4 separate regions of the Homo sapiens genome follow, and all the other regions are linked to region 1. Evidence: fine-mapped expression QTL. A gene starts in region 1. Each other region holds a variant in brackets. All regions are shown on one strand. Distances are from middle to middle.

Region 1 (2,709 bases):
ACCGCTAGGGGCACGAGTCAGCGGTGAAGAAATTGGCCCAGGAGCCTATGTCTATCTATATATCATAAAGAAAACTCGGACCCGCTCAACCCAACAGTTCCGAGTTTTTGAGTCATTCTATGAGCATGTTAACCAGAAATTGCCTGAGCCCCCTCCCTTGGCCAGTAATTTATTCGCCCAACTGGCTGAAAACATAGCCAGCAGCCTGCACGTTGCTTCATGTTATGTCTGTGGGGGAATGAACATGGGAGACCAATGGCCATGGGAAGCAAGGGAACTAATGCCCCAAGATAATTTCACACTAACCGCCTCTTCCCTCGAACCTGCACCATCAAGTCAGAGCATCTGGTTCTTAAAAACCTCCATTATTGGAAAATTCTGTATTGCTCGCTGGGGAAAGGCCTTTACAGACCCAGTAGGAGAGTTAACTTGCCTAGGACAACAATATTACAACGAGACACTAGGAAAGACTTTATGGAGGGGCAAAAGCAATAATTCTGAATCACCACACCCAAGCCCATTCTCTCGTTTCCCATCTTTAAACCATTCTTGGTACCAACTTGAAGCTCCAAATACCTGGCAGGCACCCTCTGGCCTCTACTGGATCTGTGGGCCACAAGCATATCGACAACTGCCAGCTAAATGGTCAGGGGCCTGTGTACTGGGGACAATTAGGCCGTCCTTCTTCCTAATGCCCCTAAAACAGGGAGAAGCCTTAGGATACCCCATCTATGATGAAACTAAAAGGAAAAGCAAAAGAGGCATAACTATAGGAGATTGGAAGGACAATGAATGGCCTCCTGAAAGAATAATTCAATATTATGGCCCAGCCACCTGGGCAGAAGATGGAATGTGGGGATACCGCACCCCAGTTTACATGCTTAACCGCATTATAAGATTGCAGGCAGTACTAGAAATCATTACCAATGAAACTGCAGGGGCCTTGAATCTGCTTGCCCAGCAAGCCACAAAAATGAGAAATGTCATTTATCAAAATAGACTGGCCTTAGACTACCTCCTAGCCCAGGAAGAGGGAGTATGCGGAAAGTTCAACCTTACTAACTGCTGCCTGGAACTTGATGACGAAGGAAAGGTCATCAAAGAAATAACTGCTAAAATCCAAAAGTTAGCTCACATCCCAGTTCAGACTTGGAAAGGATAGTCTCCAGATTCCCTTTTCAGAGGTTGGTTCTCATCCCTTGGAGGATTTAAAACCTTAGTACAAATAGTCCTAGCCATATTGGGAGTTTGCCTTATACTCCCTTGTCTCTTACCCCTCATTGTCAAAAATATCCAAACAGCCATAGAGGCTCTTGTGGACAGACGGACTACCACACGACTAATGGCCCTAACTAAGTATTAACCCCTGCCAAGAAAAGAGCTACTTCCTCTTGAAGTAAATGAAGATAGTGATGCTTTCTCTTAAACTTTACTTATAAAAAGCATCAAAGGGGGGAATGAAGCAGGAAATATAAAAGGAAAAACAAGTAAAGGGAAAACAAGTCCTTTCCTGACCAGTCTGACTCACTCCAAAGTCCTGCTGGAGCTATGATAATTATCTGCAAGGCCAGGCAGGGGCTCCGAAGGAGTGGGCTCCAGGAGCAGGGATGAGAAAAACAAGTTCTCCTTATCAGTTTCCCTGTTTGAAATTCTCTCCCCATAACATTATTCTTTGTTCTGCTCTCACAACTATTTTTGTAACTATTTCTGCAAGTCTGTAAAGATTTTGTAAGTTCTTGTTTTTCTTTCTGTAGCATGGCAAGGTCACAAGACATGTTTAAGTAAGGTAGGCTCATGTTGCAAATCCTGTTGTAAAACCTGTCACGGTATGATTAACTGCCTTTGTTCTGCTTCTGTAAGACTGCTTTCTCACCTCGCAGGTTTTGCGCCAAAAACCCGACTTGCCCCTGCCTGATGCATGTATAAAAGTCAAGCCCTGTCTTTGTTCAGGGCTCAGCCTTTGGATGTTAATCCGCTGGGCCAGTGGCCACCTAAATAAAACCTTCCTGTTGCACCCAGTGATCTCTCCGGCCTCCTGATTCCCACAACATATAAGCATTCCTTTTTCTCTGCAACCTAGCCCGCATCTGTCATTGACTTTTTAACAATAGGCATTCTGACTGGATGAGATGGTATCTCACTGTGGTTTTTCTCTGCATTTTTCTAATAATTAACAACGTGAATTTTGTTTTCATATGCTTGTCAGCCACATGTATGTCTTCTTTTGAAAAGTATCTGTTCATGTTTTTGCTTACTTTTTAATTAGGTTTTTGGTTTTCTTTTTGTTGTTGTTGTTGTTTTCTGAGATGGAGTCTTGCTGTGTCACCAGGATGGAGTGCAGTGGCATGATCTCGACTCACTGCAACCTCCACCTCCCAGGTTCAGATGATTCTTCTGCTTCAGTCTCCTGAGTAGCTGGGATCACAGGTGCGTGACACAAAACCCAGCTAATTTTTGTATTTTTATTAGAGATGGGGTTTCACCATGTTGGCCAGGATGGTCTGGATCTCTTGACCTCATGATCCATCTGCCTCAGCTTCCCAAAGTGCTGGGATTACAAGCATGAGCCACAGATCCTGGCTTATTCTTCTTCTTCTTTTTTTTTAAAATAAATTTGTTTAAGTTTCTTATGGATGCTAGATTTTAGACCTTTGTCAGAAGCATAGTTTGCAAATATTTTCTTCTAGTCTGTAGGTTGTCTGTTTATTC
Region 2 (2,709 bases), 200 kb before region 1:
GGTAAATATGGTAAACAATGGTAAATATCTGTATATCTAAACATAAAAAAGGTACAGTAAAAATATAATCATGGGACCACCACAACGTTGTTATTTAGTGCATGACTGTATTAGCTCAGACGTTAACCAAAATGAGTCTGCCTTCAAAGCTCCATTCACTCAATCTCTATACTACACCACTGCAGTTCTGGGAGGCTGTTCTCCCTCAGGTCTCCCAGCTCTTCTAATGTCTGCTGAAGTTGGAATTCTCTTCTGCATATGGACTACGAAACTGACATGCTCAGTTATCATTTCATACTAGCTAAAGGATCTTCTCCTTTGTGAAGCATCCCTCACCACTACTACTGTGATGGGTCAGGGCCTTTCATCTGTTTTTCCACAGCATCTATGCTTCTCTTCACTGTATCATTTATCAAATTGATGATTTCTGCGTCCTGTAATAAACAGTGAGTACCTTAAGAACAAATGTCATTTCTTATTTCTCTCTACCCTCAGCAACTGGCTTATTAGAATAAACAAATAGTTAATGCTGCTAAGTGAATGAATGACCTAATGTAATGGGAAAACATAACTTGGAGGATGGTTCAGTTGGCCAGCTTTATAACATGTTAAGATGCAATAATGGACAGGAAAGCATGAACAAAGTACAAAGCGCTGTTATCCACCATCATAAGTCTTTGTCTATATCCATCTTGTCTACATGGGCTCTCTAAGGGCAGAATCCTAGCTAGCTGATCTGTATCTAGCACAGAGCTTGTTTCTTAGTGTATGGAATGAAATCATCCACTAAAAATTATTAGTTGAATGTGGCTGGTGCCAAATACTCTTCCGGGCAGATCAAAAGAGATCTCAACCAAGATACAAATGATATAATATAATATTTTTCTTTCTTTCTTTTTTGTTTTGAGATGGAGTCTCACTCTGTTGCCCAGACTGGAGTACAGTGGCGTGATCTTGGCTCACTGCAAGCTCCGCCTCCCGAGTTCAAGCGATTCTTGTGCCTCAATCTCCCAAGTAGCTGGGATTACAGGCTACTATTTTTAGTAGAGACGGGGTTTCACTCAGTGGGGCTGGTCTTGAACTCCTAGCCTCAAGTGATCCTCCCGCCTCGGTCTCCCAAAGTGCTGGGATTACAGGCATGAGCCACTGCACCTGGCCGATATAATATTTTTCTCTTTTAAGAGCAAACAATAAAGAATTTAAACTCATTTGCTTTTAGCAAAAGCAGTACTGTTTGCTCTTAAAATACATGATTTTTTAATCTTTTAAGAGCAAACAATACTGCTTTTGCTAAAAGCAAATGAGTTTAAATTCTTTTCATATCATTCAGGCCATTTTGAGGAAGGTCTGGCAGAGCCTTTTGGTTGTTCCCCAATATCTTTCTCCCATTCTTCCTGAGTATTAGAGTCATCGCATGTAAACCAGGCATTAGTCACCCAGAATAAAGACTGCATGTCCTCGCTCCTTGAAGTGAGAGATGGCCATGTGACTTAAGTTCTAGTCAATGGAATGCAAGTAAAATTAGAGTGTACAACTTTTGGGAAGTGTCTTTAAACAAACCACAGGGTGGAGATGATACCTTTCTCT[C/T]CCCGTTTCCTTTTCCCCACAGGATGGAATACAGGGGGGACAGTTAGATTCTGAATTGTTAAGCAGAGCTGCTTGATGCAGAAGATGAAGACACAAGAAAGAATGAGCCTAGGCCGGGCACAGTGGCTCACGCCTGTAATTCCAGCACTTTGGGAGGCCGAGGCGGGAGGATCACTTGAGCTCAGGAGTTTGAGACTGGCCTGGCCACCATGGTGAAACCTCAACTCTACAAAAAAAAAAAAAAAGCCAAAATTAGCCGGGTGTGGTGGCATATGCCTGTGGTCCCAGCTACTTGGGAGGCTGAAGTGGGAGAATCACTTGAGCCCAGGAGGCTGCAGTTGCAGTGAGCTGATATTATGCCACTGCACTCCAGCCTGGGTGACAGGGTGAGACCCTGTCTCAAAAAAAAAAAAAAAAGAATGAGCAAGCCTAGATCCTTGATGGTCATCTCAGCCCTGTCCTGCCTATGAGGAAGAATTAAACTTTGCTCCTGTTTTAGCCACTGTTACTTTGCATTTTGGTCACTCATCCTAATATATAAAATTAAAAAACTAAAAACAGGTTCTTTGTAACTATTTCTGTTGTGTACTAATCATCAATCGAGTCATGAATATAAAGAGCTCTTTTAAAAAATATGTTCAAACCACAATCTAATCCAAATATAAACAGACCATAAAACCGTGTGTGAATGTAGACCAATAGAGTCAGAATATCAAGCCTAGTAACCAACACCAGAATTCAGAACAGTCAAGCTGAGTGTAACGGCACTAACTCTGTCAGATGAAGGGATGATTACCCTACCTGATGGTGAATTCCAGCAGCTCCTGGGCTCCCTGAGGGTCCAAGTGCTGAAGACTACACACTCCTTCAAGGCTCTGCTGCAGGAGCTGCTGCGAAGGATCCTCTTGAGGTATGATGCTGGGAGAAACAGCTGATGACACCAGTTTTCTACCTGGCAACTAAGCAAACACAGTGGGATTATAGAGTCATTAAGTTTGGTGGCTCAGCTTTTGGTAACACACACACAAACACATAAAAGCACATTAAAAATGTGAGCTAAACAAAACAAAGGGGAAAAAAGGCTAGGAGATTCTATAAATAACATTTCTCCCCTTCCTCAGC
Region 3 (2,709 bases), 97 kb after region 1:
ATTCTTGATATACCACTTTTAGAGGTATTTGAACACAACTGGATATATGTGCTGAAATATGGATGTATTTATAACCTCATTAGAGACTAAATCATGGCAACACGTTACAGTTCAATATTTTTGTCTAAATTCTTGTTGAGCCACATCCATCTGTATATGTAATACTGAGTTGCCAACAGCTTTTTTATACTAAGCCAGAACTCATTTTACCCTGTGGTTTCGTTTGAAATGTATGAGCTGTACTATATAACATACAAATAAGTAATAAAAATTTCATTCAAAGACTATGGAAAGAAAAGTCATACAGGCACACTGTTAGTGAATCGGAATCTGGCACATGACACTGATTAACAGGTTGAGCAGATTCAACTAGATCTAAATCCCTGAAACAATATTGAAAGACAGAATTTTTTAATTAAAAATATCTTTGACAATTTAATAGACCTATGAAATTTGAAAAAAATCAATTTGTTTACTCATCATCAATCAATATTAGGTTAAACTAAAAATTTTTGAACACATCATAAAAAAATAAAATTAATTCACTATCCCCAGACTTACTGTGATTAACACAAGACTTCAGTGTATTTGAAAGCACCAAATTATTAATTAAAAATCTCCATTTTGAAAAGATCTTCAAATTTTTTTTTTCTTGAGATGGAGTCTCGCTCTGCCACCCAGGCTGGAGTGCAGCGGCACGATTAGGGCTCACTGCAACCTCTGCCTCCTGGGTTCAAGTGATTCTCCTGCCTCAGCCTCCTGAGTAGCTGAGATTACAGGTACACGCTGCCATGCCCAGCTAATTTTTTTTTTTTTTGTATTTTTAGTAGAGACGGGGTTTCACTATGTTGGCCAGGCTGGTCTTGAACTCCTGACCTCGTGATCCATCTGCCTCGGCCTCCCAAAGTGCTGGGATTACGAGCATGAGCCACCGTGCCCGGCCCGATCTTTCGTATATAACTACTAAGTAAAACCTAATACTAATATGTTTGATTTATGAAAGATTTGTGAATGCCCATCACTGTAGTTAAAAATCATAAAATTATATAAATAGACTGTCTAAATAATTTTGATTAAAATAGTTGGTATTTTATTTGAGTACCAGTATTTATATAGTATGACAAATTCAGGTTTATTTTATGAAATGGCAAAAGAGTATTTTACTTTTTTAGAAAGGTAAAAAGTATTTTTTTTTTTTTACTGTTGTGACATTTTATAAAATAAGCCTAAATTTGTGGAGACATTTTTTAAAAAGCCAATCTTTTCTAAAGGAAGATTTATACATAAGAAACTAGAGATATAAATGTCATATTATATACATCATTTCCTGAACCCTACAGTAATCTGTAAAGTTTGTTTGTATACACCAATCTTAGATTACCTAAAACATAATAAAGTTTTTTAGTGTTATATTTAACATACAAAAGTTCAAAATATATCCAGACGGACAGGACCTATGGCTGCCACTTTAAAAAAACAAATGATTGGCCGGACATGGAGGCTCATGCCCGTAATCCCGGCACATTGGGAGGCCGAGGCTGGTGCACCAC[T/C]TGAGGTCAGAAGTGTGAGACCAGCCTGGCAAACACGGTGAAACCCTGTTTCTTCTAAAAATACAAAAAGTAGCCAGGTGTAGTGGCACGCGCCTGTAGTTTCAGCTACTCTAGAGGCTGAGGCAGGAGAATTAATTGAACCCGGGAGACGGAGGTTGCAGTGAGCCCAGATTGCACCACTGCACTCCAGCCTGGGCGACAGAGCAAGGCTATGTCTCAAATAAATAAATAAATAAAAACAAATGTTTTAGCACGAAAAGAACTTAAAATAGTAAACTAAACTGTGACAGTTTAGATTAAAAACATGAGAAATGACTTTTTATTTGCACTTATGCTTAATTACCTTTATTCATTTTGGAACATGCAGGAAATGATGCGGTGGTAACTTGCTGGGTAGTGACTAGGACGGTATTTACTGTCCTAGGGATGGTGGGATCCAGTGGACCAGAATCGTCAGCACCTCACCATGTACGCTGCTGTCCTCTCTCTGTGACTGTTTTGTGAGAGAGGAAGGGAAGGGAAGGGGAAGGGAGGGGAGGGGGAGGGGAGGGGGAGGGGAGGGGTGGGGAGGGGGACGGGAGGGAGGAAACAGAGCAACTCACCATTGCACCTCCCATGCTGGCCACAACATCTGTTTATGGTGGGCCTACTGTGGGTTGCTTGGAGACTGCATGACATGTTCATACCGGCCCTCAAGATGCCATCAATAGGGGAGCCAGAGAAGTAAGCAAATAATTAGCATGCATGAGCTGCTATTCGCTGCTTTAAAGGCTGCTTCTCTTACCTGGTATCTATTCTTGTAAGGAAAATGATCCATCTCTAAAGATTTCTGAAAGAAAACAGAACATGATGGACTGTTCTGGCATGCAGCTTCTTTTAAGTTATGGAAAGATGTTCATGATAGATTGTGTTCAGTGAAAAAATGGTATGCAATGCGTGCTCAAAACTGTGAAAAATATACACTTTTGGAAAGGGTTATATCAAAATGTCACAGTGTTTGGTTGTCTCTGAGTGATGATGAGTCTTAATGATACAGAAAGTAGAAAAAAAATATTTGACAGACAGTGAGCATAAAAGAGTACTTGGCAGAGCTTCCCTTTAGCAAAAGGAAGACAAATTTTTTTTTTTCTTTACTAACAAAGATCAGCCTGAAAAATGG
Region 4 (2,614 bases), 59 kb before region 1:
ATCTGACCACCTAAGTTAACACTTCTATGTAAAGACACCATAACACAAAATTAAAAGACAAATAACAAATGAAGAGAAAATGTGTAACACATATAACAAAAGATTAACCATTGTGACATCTAAAGAACTCCTATAAAGCAATAAGAAGAAAAGATAAACAACCCAGAAAGGGAAAAAATGGGCAAAGGTATGAACAGGCAATATCCAGAAGAAATGCAAAATTTTTGTCTGTACAAAAATTATGTTGTAGATTCATGTAACACCCAGTAAACTACATTCTAGGAGGTTAAAGAAGTCATGTTTTTCAGAACTAACAAATTACATATATTTACACAATATCAGAATGGGAAGTGCCTGTCTGAACTTGAATCTACAGACAAAAATTACCAAGAAAAATCATTAAAATTATCATAGACTTAAAAAAACCTTTGTACTAGCATTCGTCTAAATCGATGTGAAAAATTCTAAAATTTATCCAGGCAGGAGAAGAAACACAGTTAATAAAAACATGAAAACCTCATTATCAAACAAGGTGATTATAAATTAAAAAATAAATTTTTTAAATGTGAAACCATTAAATCTTGCTGATGCTTGGGGAAAATGCAAATCAAAACAATAACATGACAATTTTCATAAATCATATTGGCAAATATCTAAAAAATGAGAATGCCCAATTTGGCAAGGGCACAGGGCACCCAATATTCTCTTCCATTACTGGTGGAATTTTTAACAACATGGGAAAATAGTGGTAATATTTTCTTTTTTTTTGAGACAGTCTCACTCTGTCGCCCAGGCTGAAGTACAATGGCATGATCTCGGCTCACTGCAACTTCTGCCTCCCCAGTTCAAGCAATTCTCCTGCCTCAGCCTCCCAAGTAGCTGGGACCATCAGTGTGCATTACCATGCCCAGCTAATTTTTGTATTTTTAGTAGAGATGGGGTTTCACCACGTTGGCCAGGCTGTAGAGATGGGGTTTCACCACGTTGGCCAGGCTGGTCTCAAACTCCTGACCTCAGATGATCCACCTGCCTCAGCCTCCCAAAGTGCTGGGATTATGGCCACCGTGCCCTGCCGTGATATGTTAAGTGAGGAAAAGACAAATTAAACATACAGGAAGATCTAAACCATGTTCTAAAATAATAGTAACTATGTTTTATGAGTACCTTTATGCCAGACACCAGGACTATTTACATGTACTGGTACACTTCATATTCACAATAATCCTATGAGTTAA[C/G]GCTATTACTACCCTCATTTTATGGAGGAAGAAGCTGAGACAAGAGATCAAGTGACAGAGCCAAGATTTCAACTCAGGTTGACTCTAGAGTCCCAGATCTTAACCACTGGCACAATGTATAGAAATTAATCAAACTCTTTAAACACAGTGGAATTGAGTATACTGTCTACTTTAATTCCCGATTTTGTCATATATATTCTACTATTTTACTTCTCAAATACAACGAGTTTTTAAAAGGATCGGTAATCACAAGACAGCCAACAGTGTCCCTGAAATTCCCCTAGAGATGCTAACTACAAAATAAAACTTATGAATCATAATTCAATAGCTTTAAATATTGTAGTACAAGAACATTTTTCTAAATGAAATTTTATGTGCATCTATAACATAAGAAACAGATTAGGCTGGGTGTGGTGGCTTGCACCTGTAATCCCAGCACTTTGGGAGGCTGAGGAGGGCAGATTACGAGGTCAGGAGGTCGACACCAGCCTGGCCAACATGGTGAAACCCCATCTCTACTAAAAATACAAAAATTAGCAGGGTTTGGTGGCAGGTGCCTGTAATCCCAGCTACTCGGGAGCCTGAGGCAGGAGAATCACTTGAAGCTGGAAGGCAGAGGTTGCAGTGAGCTGAGATCCTGCCACTGCACTCCAGCCTGGGTTAAAGAGTGAAACTCCATCTCAAAAAACAAACAAAAAAAGAATAAAGCAGTATTTTATTCTATCAATGTATTTCAAAGCTCAAACGTGGCCGGGTGTGGTGGCTCATGCCGGTAATTCCAGCACTTTGGGAGGCCAAGGCGGGGGGTGGATCATTTGAGGTCAGGAGTTCGAGACGAGCCTGACCAACATGGTGAAACCCCATCTCTAGTAAAAACATACACACAAAAAAAAGCCAGGCATGGTGGCACGTGCCTGTAGTTCCAGCTACTCAGGAGGCTGAAGCAGGAAAATCACTTGAAGCTGGGAGGTGGAGGTTGCATTGAGCCGAGATGGCACCACTGCATGCATTCCAGCCTGGGTGACAGAGTGAGACTGCATCTCCAAAAAAAAAAAAAAAAAAAAAAAAAAGCTCAAATGTATAACATGTATAATGAGAACAATAAAATTCTTCTGACAAACACCAACTTTAAATTATGGATGATTGGGCAGTCTTATGTCAAATTTGTTTTGATGGCATGGTATCAAGAAAAACCGGATTCACAAAGATGAATAGATGATAAAGCATGTTTTACAAATGATAATGTTTTGTGTGTGTTTTTTAAATAGTACATTAACGCTATCTAAGAATTTAATTACACCTATCCAGAAGTTTTAAAAGTAAAACATTTCTAAATTAATTATGTAATAGTGTTAAGGAATGAATACTTGGTAGTCGTA

Alleles and levels. Alleles are on the strand shown, and positions count from the first base shown. SD is a standard deviation of normalised expression in the study named. Not every link is listed here.
As copies of T replace C in region 2, the expression in lymphoblastoid cells of the gene that starts at base 1,338 in region 1 goes down (large effect, 1.1 SD a copy in CAP).

The links.
Region 2: its variant is fine-mapped to the expression of ZNF117 in lymphoblastoid cells (CAP, PIP 0.95).
Region 3: its variant is fine-mapped to the expression of ZNF117 in whole blood (INTERVAL, PIP 0.96).
Region 4: its variant is fine-mapped to the expression of ZNF117 in sun-exposed skin (GTEx, PIP 0.98).

The regions. Positions count from the first base shown.
Region 1 is chr7:64,989,665-64,992,373 of GRCh38, reverse strand. It overlaps ZNF117 (zinc finger protein 117), which reads left to right and starts at 1,338. Exons shown (of 4, transcript NM_015852.5): 1 at 1,338-2,427. The region is part of intron 1 of ERV3-1-ZNF117 (ERV3-1-ZNF117 readthrough); the gene reads left to right. It overlaps ERV3-1 (endogenous retrovirus group 3 member 1, envelope), which reads left to right. Exons shown (of 2, transcript NM_001007253.4): 2 at 1-2,018. The coding sequence ends at 1,162.
Region 2 is chr7:65,188,817-65,191,525 of GRCh38, reverse strand. It overlaps the pseudogene INTS4P1. Among named protein-coding and RNA genes, the nearest start is that of SNORA15B-1, 120 kb to the right of the region's middle. The variant C/T (reference allele first, on the strand shown) is at 1,588.
Region 3 is chr7:64,893,082-64,895,790 of GRCh38, reverse strand. It overlaps a transcript of ZNF273 not described here. Among named protein-coding and RNA genes, the nearest start is that of ZNF273, 8.8 kb to the left of the region's middle. The variant T/C (reference allele first, on the strand shown) is at 1,551.
Region 4 is chr7:65,048,907-65,051,520 of GRCh38, reverse strand. It overlaps the pseudogene CCT6P3. Among named protein-coding and RNA genes, the nearest start is that of SNORA22C, 16 kb to the left of the region's middle. The variant C/G (reference allele first, on the strand shown) is at 1,236.